Homo sapiens: one gene and its partner. The protein of the gene in region 1 purifies or fractionates together with the protein of each later gene. This does not show direct contact. Each region holds a gene or a part of one and is shown on either strand. Other genes may lie near its edges.

The links.
Region 2: the proteins of PLA2G15 (region 1) and RP2 fractionate together in Homo sapiens (co-fractionation; one large-scale study listed by BioGRID). This does not show direct contact.

The regions. Positions count from the first base shown.
Region 1 is NC_000016.10:68,244,216-68,248,467, reverse strand, and holds the start of PLA2G15 (lysosomal phospholipase A and acyltransferase isoform 1 precursor), read right to left. Parts: upstream 3,096-4,252; 5' UTR 3,042-3,095; coding exon 2,915-3,041; intron 1-2,914. UniProt on the Homo sapiens protein: Has dual calcium-independent phospholipase and O-acyltransferase activities with a potential role in glycerophospholipid homeostasis and remodeling of acyl groups of lipophilic alcohols present in acidic cellular compartments.
Region 2 is NC_000023.11:46,857,323-46,861,137, reverse strand, and holds part of RP2 (protein XRP2), read right to left. Parts: intron 1,151-3,815; coding exon 1,036-1,150; intron 1-1,035. UniProt on the Homo sapiens protein: Acts as a GTPase-activating protein (GAP) involved in trafficking between the Golgi and the ciliary membrane.

The DNA of each region.
Region 1 (4,252 bases):
GTTGCAGTGAGCCAAAATCGTGCCATTGCCCTCCAGCCTGGGTGACAGAGCAAGACCCGGTCTCAAAAAAAAAAAAAGATATATACCCTGGAGGCTTGAACCCAAAAGTCTTCCACCCATAGCTATCCCAGGCTACATAGAAGACAGGGTCCTGTTCGCCCTGAGAGAGGAAGAAGGAAACAGAACAGAGCCCTGGGCCACTCAGCTAAAATTCAACCAGACAAAGTATGCAGGACAGGCTGGTGGGAGGGAAATGAACAGAAACACAGCTGAGAGAAGCTTACATTGGCACCCGCCAGCCTACCAAGGGCCCAGGCCTTACTAAAGGCCAGAGTCCAGTAAGGTGCCAGAGAGCAGATCATCTGGAGGGCCCTAGCATGGCTGGGAGCCCGTATTGGAAACAGCCACCCTGAACCAGCACCATTATCACCACAGTCCAGGCCCTAGGGTGACTTCTCTCCATCCCAGCCATCCTATTCAGTGTACTCAGAACTCTGGGGCCCTGGTGACACCCAAATCCCTCCCCACTGCGTCAAAGCCCTTCACAGTCTCGTTACTCCCATTGACCTTTCGGGCCTCACCTGCCCCCACATGCCATGCTCTCGCCACTTCCCAAACACATCCCCGTTTAGGGTCCATGATCATTGAGTGAAAAACCAGCACTTGGCTCTCCTGGACATTCACTGGGAACTGACCGTAAATCCACCCTGAACAGGGCGTGCCCTCCCTGGGCACCATCCCAGTGTCTTCAGGGTGCCATGAGAGGCAGGGGCGGCACATGCCTTCACCTCCCTTCATGGTATGGGTGCAGAGGGAGGGAGTCCCTGTCATGACAGCCTCTGGATGACATGCCTGTGGACTGGGCAGGGCAGGGCAGAGACCCTGGTCACTGTCTCTACCAAAGGGGAAATGGTAAAAGAGGAAGTCACCAGATCTGCTTTGCTCAGATGCTCCTTACCCTGGTCAGGCTGTGTGGCCCCTAAAAATAGCAGTGGCCACTTCCTGAGCCCATCTGCGCCTGGAACTAGGAAAAGAGCCATCCACATGCCTTTCACCTCAAGTAACACTGGGAGGGGACAGCCTTACTATTTCCACTTAACAGATGGGGAGACTGAGGCTGCAAGAGGTGGAAATGGCCTTGCCTATGGTCCCTTCCCCTTGCCCAGGGTCTTCTGTATCACATCGCTGGTCTCTCTTTCCTCCACCACCATTTCAGGATCCACCCCTAGAGGATTCTGATCTTCTGACAGTCAAGGTCAGATCCCTGCTCTGTGCCCAGGAGCTGCTTATCCAACTGCCCACCGTGAGGTCTCCCAGGGCTAAGGCCAGCAGCCTCACTCCCTGAGAAGCTGGGCATGTTAGGACTCCTGCTGCTCTGTGATTCTGGGTGGGGTCTGAGGCTCTTCTGCTGTGACCAAGGATAAACAGACTGACTGAATTGATGAGTGCGGTTAGCATCAATCCAGGCAAAATGGCTATGTGCCATTTTGTGTGCCACAGACCACATGCTTCCTAATGCCACGCCCCTCAGACTTAGAACTCTGCAGGCCAACCCAGGACTCCCTGAGGCCCTCAAGATAAAGTTCAGATGACCCAACCAGTCACAAGTCCTGTGCAGTCCACTCCTCCTGTGACTCGATCCCAGGCAGCCTGAGATGCTCACGTCTCTCCCCGACCCATTACTCTCTCCTGGCCTTAGCTCCAGCTATATACTCCAGGAAGCCTTACTTGACACCCACCCATCCAGGCTGGGTTGGTGGATTCTCTGTGCTTGCCCCACACAGACTTCCTCTCTGGGGATCACTGTTATTCCTATCCTGCAAGCTTTGGGGAGGCAGGGCCAAGTCTGCCCAAATCCCATGGTGAACCTGGGCCTAGTATCCCCCTGGAGCTTTTCCTGGCTGGGAACTCCTGGTGGGGCCTGCCTGGCACCACCCTACCTGCCAACTCTACCCTTCTGTGATTTGCATCGTCCCCATTTAAAGTACTCTCAGCAGAAAGAGCATGGAGATCATGCTGCACTAGACTCCACGTGTAATTCATGCCTCAGATGCCTCTGCTTTCAGGAATCCTGGCTGGCCACGGACACACCAGCTCTGGATGGGAGTGACGGCCTCAATGAGGCACCCAAGGCCCCCCAGACAGAGGTCTCATCCCTGCCCATCCCTGCAAGGAAATACAGTGGCCGTTGTAGAGTTGCCAGGGTTGTGATCAAGGAGCGGGGTGAGCAGGGGAGGTCACCGAGCCTCCACATAGTCTAGTCCAAGCATGTGTGGCAGGGTAAGAGTACAAGCATGTTGCCTGACACAGGTTCATGGCCATTGTCCCAACCCTTTCCCCTGACTTCAGTTGTCTTCAGTTTCCCTTAGGCCTTTTCCCTCAGGCAATGCCACACATCTGATAAGTTGTGGGAGTTGGTGGCCAGCTAGGACAGCAATCCTTTCCCTAAGGAGGTTCCTTTCAGCAATGCCTTCTGGCATATGTGGCATTGGAGGGGTCGAGGGTGACAGCCTCCTAACCAGGCCCAGGTCGATGCAGAAGTCAACTCAGGAGCCACTCTACACACCCCCACCATCCCTCAGGAGTGGGGCTGAAGCACCTGTCTTTCCAGCTTAAAAATGGGATAAGGGGAGGCAAGGCTTGGGAATGATGCGGACAGGTGGAACTATGAATAACCAGATGGTAACTCTCCCACTCACCCCCATTTTCTACCAGGACAGGAGGTGGGGAGCTGACCACACCCGCGCCCAGCATGGCGGGAGGTGAGCCGGCAGATCTAGATCACCTAAGTGACAAGACAGATACCAATACGCTCCCCCATTTCGTGACTGGAACAGAAGCAGACCGGGAAGGCAGCCCCGCCCGCGGCCCGTCCCGCCCGACCGACAGATCCACCACGAGACCCGTGCCTCACCCAGCACCACTGGGGGGTGACGTCCGGCCGGGAGCGCTGGGTCCGCGAGCAGCATTAGCAGCAGCAAGAGGAACAGGAGGCCATCCGGGAGCAGCCCCACACGGTAGGGGCGGAGGTGGAGGCCCATGGTGTACGACGGTCGCCGCAGGTCCGGGATGCAGGTTCAGCTCTCTGGGCTCTCGCCTAGGCGGGGGCGGTGGCGACGCGCTTAACCCCGCCGCCCGCATCCCCCGCATCCCCCCGGCCAATCAGGGCCCGCCTCCCGCAAATGGCTGGCCAATAGGGACTCGCCGCCATATACGCCCCTCCCAGTCGGAGGTCGCCGCCCCGCCCTTGCCCAACCCCCTGCTTCCTGGACCACGCTGAGCGCCGAGCGCATCGATGGATCGAGGTATCGCCTGGCTCCGGGCTGTCAGTCGCCCACCCGGGAACCCAGCTCGCCGCTGCTGTACCCCGCCCAGCCCTGGGTACCCGAAATCCACGCTGCGCAGCTCTCACTTGGCGACCCCCTGACCTGGAGGATCTGGAACGGACAAGACCGGGAGAGGATAAGGGGTGCAGCGCTGGCCGCTGCTGAGCGACCCCGGTTAAAGCAAGAAGAGAGGAAGTGAGTCCCGGACAGTTCTTGGGCCTCAGGTGACCAGGAGCTGACCAGGACCTTTGTGCAGCCCCCACACCAATTCTTAGCACACCCTGCCCCGAGGGCACCTGGGTGCGGCCAGTCAGCCCCTGTAACTCTGCCCCGGGGTTACAGATGCGGGGGGAACCGGGAGAGGCCAGGTCAGCATGTTCAGTTCCCAAGAGAGGGGTTAATCTGTTCGTTTTAGGGGCGCAGAGTGCAGCGTCACCCCGCCAGTCCGGGCAGTTCGGGCGCGGGGTTGGGAGTGGGCTTGAGTCTCGACCCTGCGCCATGGGCCATCTGCAAGTTCCCCTGCAGAGCAGGAGAGGCATCGGGAGCTCGTGGTCCCCCTCCACTCTCGCAAACCTGGGGAACCAGAGAGGACATGGACTCCCTGCGCCAGGAAGCAGGGGCGAACAGAGTGGGCAAAGACCTGACAGCTGGTTATATGCCAGCACCATAGGTCACTGTGGGATAGAGGGACGAGAGTATTTGGGAAATAGAGGTCTTGATCCTCCACACACCCACCCCTTCGAAGGGGCAGCTGCACCCTGGTCATCCCACCTGGTCCCAAGAAATTTGTCCTGCCCCTTCCTTCCTTCTTCTTGGTAAGCAGCTGACCTGGCTATGAAGCCACTATCTTGCCCTGCCCTTCTCGAGTTCTTATAGTGAAACATGTTGGTGACTGGGCTACCACCACCCTCCCTCTTTCTTTTTTC
Region 2 (3,815 bases), on another chromosome or scaffold:
AAGTTAAACATTCATTTTCAAGCTTCCAAATGTTCCCATGTCAAAATGGTTGCATCAAAGGGGCCAGGTCAGAATTTCCTACATATATTCTGGGGTAGATTCATGCAGTGGGTCACAGCAAGTCCTTGCTACCACTACAGTAACCACAGAAGTATTATCAAATACTGCATTAATACTTACCAGCTGAGTTACACCCAGCATTACTTATTATCCTAACATTCCTCTAACATTTGCATACAGATTTTTGCAGTTTATTATAATATTTTTATACATAAAGAGCACATAAAATGCAGATGTGCCCTCTCTCTAGGGAATACCCAATCAACACTGCGTATTACTATACATATTTGCTCAGGCCAGTCAAGGAAAGCCTGATGAGCCTTGAGCAAACAATGGCCCCACTCTGAACAGATAAAGAGTACTCTGTCCTCTAGAATCAATACACCTTCAAATACAGGTAGGCAGACAGTAACCCTTCAAGTGGGCACACATACTCAAGTTCCTCTCTTTGAAGACCTATATCCAGTATCTGAAATTTATTGGTGGCATTTACCCACTAGGGAAAACAATTCTAATTATACATGGAAGTTAATCAATCATATTAAATACATAAAATAGTATACCACTTTATATTTCTTATTTCTTTTCCAGTATGATTAAAGCACACTGAAGGTAGAAAGAATCTTCATCAAGTGCTTTGCAACTCTGAGCAGGGAGCATGAAATATTTATCACTACACTATAAAGGTACAACAATAATACAACAATTAAAATGATAATAAGATACATAATAAAATGTGACTTTCAGTACTAAGAACAGAGGATAGGGAAAAAAAAAGAATGCCTAATTTCTAGTTAGTTGTCTAGGGCTCCTTGAGTGATGTGAAATTTTGACATTTCAGAACAATAATAGAAAAAAAACAAAGAACAAATGAGAAAGAGAAGGCAATGTAAAACAAATGTTAAAGGCAAAAGTAAATCAAATCAGCATGTAAAGAAAATATCCACAAAAGTATACCAATCATCCAGAAGGTACCTTTGTTCAGAAGAGGAAGGAAGTCAGGTGCTTTTTCCCGAAAAACCCTTTGAGCATCCTCAGCTTTCATGGACACTTCCTTTGTCTGAACTAGGAAAAAGCCTTTACCAACCATCTGTGAAAATAAAATTTCATTGAGATTTTAAAATGAACTTCTGAGACTAAAACAATGATTTCCTATTCTAGTATTTCTCTGTATAAAATGCAACAACAGCACACTGATTTTTGTTTTAATTATAAGTCTAATTCAGGGTGTTTGCTATAATAAGTTCTCACTATATGAGATTCTTTCTTACAGATGGGTGGTTCTGGTTTAGTACTGCAGTTAAGGTTAAGGGTCAAATAAATGTGAATTATCTCTCAAGTTTAAAACATGATTAAAATTTTTCTACAACCAGATGGAAGTTTTAGTTTGGTGATACTGCAAATGTCCAATAAGAAGAGAATGGTTAAGTAAATTATGGTACAGTCACATGATGAAATGCCACAGTTCATTACATTTATCACAGTTCATTAAATACAACAAAGATGTTATAATAAAATGAGGAAAAGCTTATGTAATAATGTTAATTTTACTTTTATTTGTTTATTTTTCTTTCTTTTTTTTTTTTTTTGAGATAGGGTGTCACTCTGTTGCCCTGGCTGGAATGTAGTGGTGCAATCATAGCTCACTGCAGCCTCAAACGCCTGGGTTCAAACGATTCTCCCACCTCAGCCTCCCAGGCAGCTAGCTGGGACTACAAGCTCGTGCCACCATGCCTGGCTAATTTTTAAAATTTTTTTTGTAGAAACAGGTTCTTGCCATGTTGCCAGGCTGATCTTGAACTCCTGGGCTCAAGCCATCCTCCTGCCTCAGCCACCCAAGATGCTGGAATTATAAGCATGAGCCACTGTACCTGGCCAATAATGTTAATTTTAAAAGGCATGATACAAATTTATATAGTATAGCACAATAATGGTAGATCACACTTATGGAGCACTTACCATGTGGCAGGCAGTTTTATGTACTTTACATATATATATTTAACCCTCTCACGAAGTAGGTATCATTACCCTCATTGTACAGATATGAAAACTAAGGCGCACAGTGATTAAGGAACTTGCCCAAGGACATTCAACAATTAAGTGACAGAGCTGTGATTCAAACCTAGTTAATCTAATTACAGACTAAATAAATTTAAAAATGATTCCTAAAAAGATTATTCAAGGTATGGTACAATTATGTATTGATTTTAAACTTATTTTACTCTTTCTTATTTCTATAATTCTCCACAATGAGGGCATATTAATTTTTAAAGTAATTATGAAAGTAGTTTTTAAAAATGCAGTCAGCCCAGCATCATGGCTCACACATGCATCCCAAGCACTCTGAGAGGCCAAGGTGGGAGGACTGCTTGAGACCAGGAGTTTGAGACCAGCCTGGGCAACACAGCAAGACCCCATCTTTATAAAAAAAAATTTAAAATTAGCCAGGTGTGGTGGTGTGTGCCTGTAGTCCTAGCTACTCAGGAGGCTGAGGTGGGAGGATCCCTTAAGCCCAGGAGTTAGAGGCTACACTGAGCTATGATCTCACCACTGCACTCCAGCCTGGACAATAGAGCAAAACCTTGTCTTTAAAAAAAAAAAAATGTAGTCATATTCCAACCACTTAATTTTTAGCAAAGCTTGTTAGGTTTTTAATAATTAAAAGTAACATATATTCTCAACACAGAACATTTGAAAAATAAAAAATAGAAATGAAGAAATATCAACCAGGGTGCTGCAACTAAAAGATGCTACTGCCATACAGGTATACCCTCCCAGTTTTCTTTTTCTCCCATTACAGAAATAATATATGCTCACTGTTAAATCCATAGAACTACAAAAAAAGAAAACCCTGCTGTTAATCAACTGCCTAAGAATAAGCATGCCTGTTAACATTTAAGTATCTATAACTTTCCAGACTTACCTACTTAAAAAAATCAGTTACTTACCTAATATTCTACAAATTTTCACTTACTTAATTGTGACATTTTCTACATAAAGTCAGTTTTAATGGCTGATAGTATTTCATCCTATGGCTACATTATTCCATACCATTCCATCGAATTTTATTAAACTCAAATCCTATTTCAGAACCCTCATTCAATGCTGCCTCCAAAAAAAGAAACATACATTTAAAAATTGTAGAGAATTACATGGACATCACTGCCAGATGACTGTAAAATAAAAATATCAGAAACAATTCTACCTCTCTTATTTTCTAGAGTGCTTATCATCTCTGATTTTATAAACACAAACTGATGAGATTATGATGATTACTTCAAAATAATGTTACCTAAATAATAAACTATATTTTAATATTTCACTGCAGATATTTGAAGAGACTCCTTTTCATGAAAATTCTACTTTTAAAGACTTGAAAATAGTGGTAACTACCCAACTTCAATTTCAGATGATGAAGTACTCTCAAACTATTTTACTCTATTTTATCCTGTACATATCTGTGATGTAGGTAAGAGAAGTCGAGGAAAGAAAAACAATTTTTATTGTTTGTTTGTTTTTGAGACGGAGTCTTGCCCTCTCGCCCAGGCTGGAGTGCAGTGGTGGGATCTCAGCTCACTGCAACCTCCGCCTCGTGGGTTCAGGCAATTCCCTGCCACAGCCTCCCGAGTAGCTGGGATTACAAGCACCCACCACCACGCCTGGCTAATTTTTGTATTTTTAGTACAGACGGGGTTTCACCATCTTGGCCAGGCTGGTCTTGAACTCCTGACCTCGTGATCCACCCGCCTCGGCCT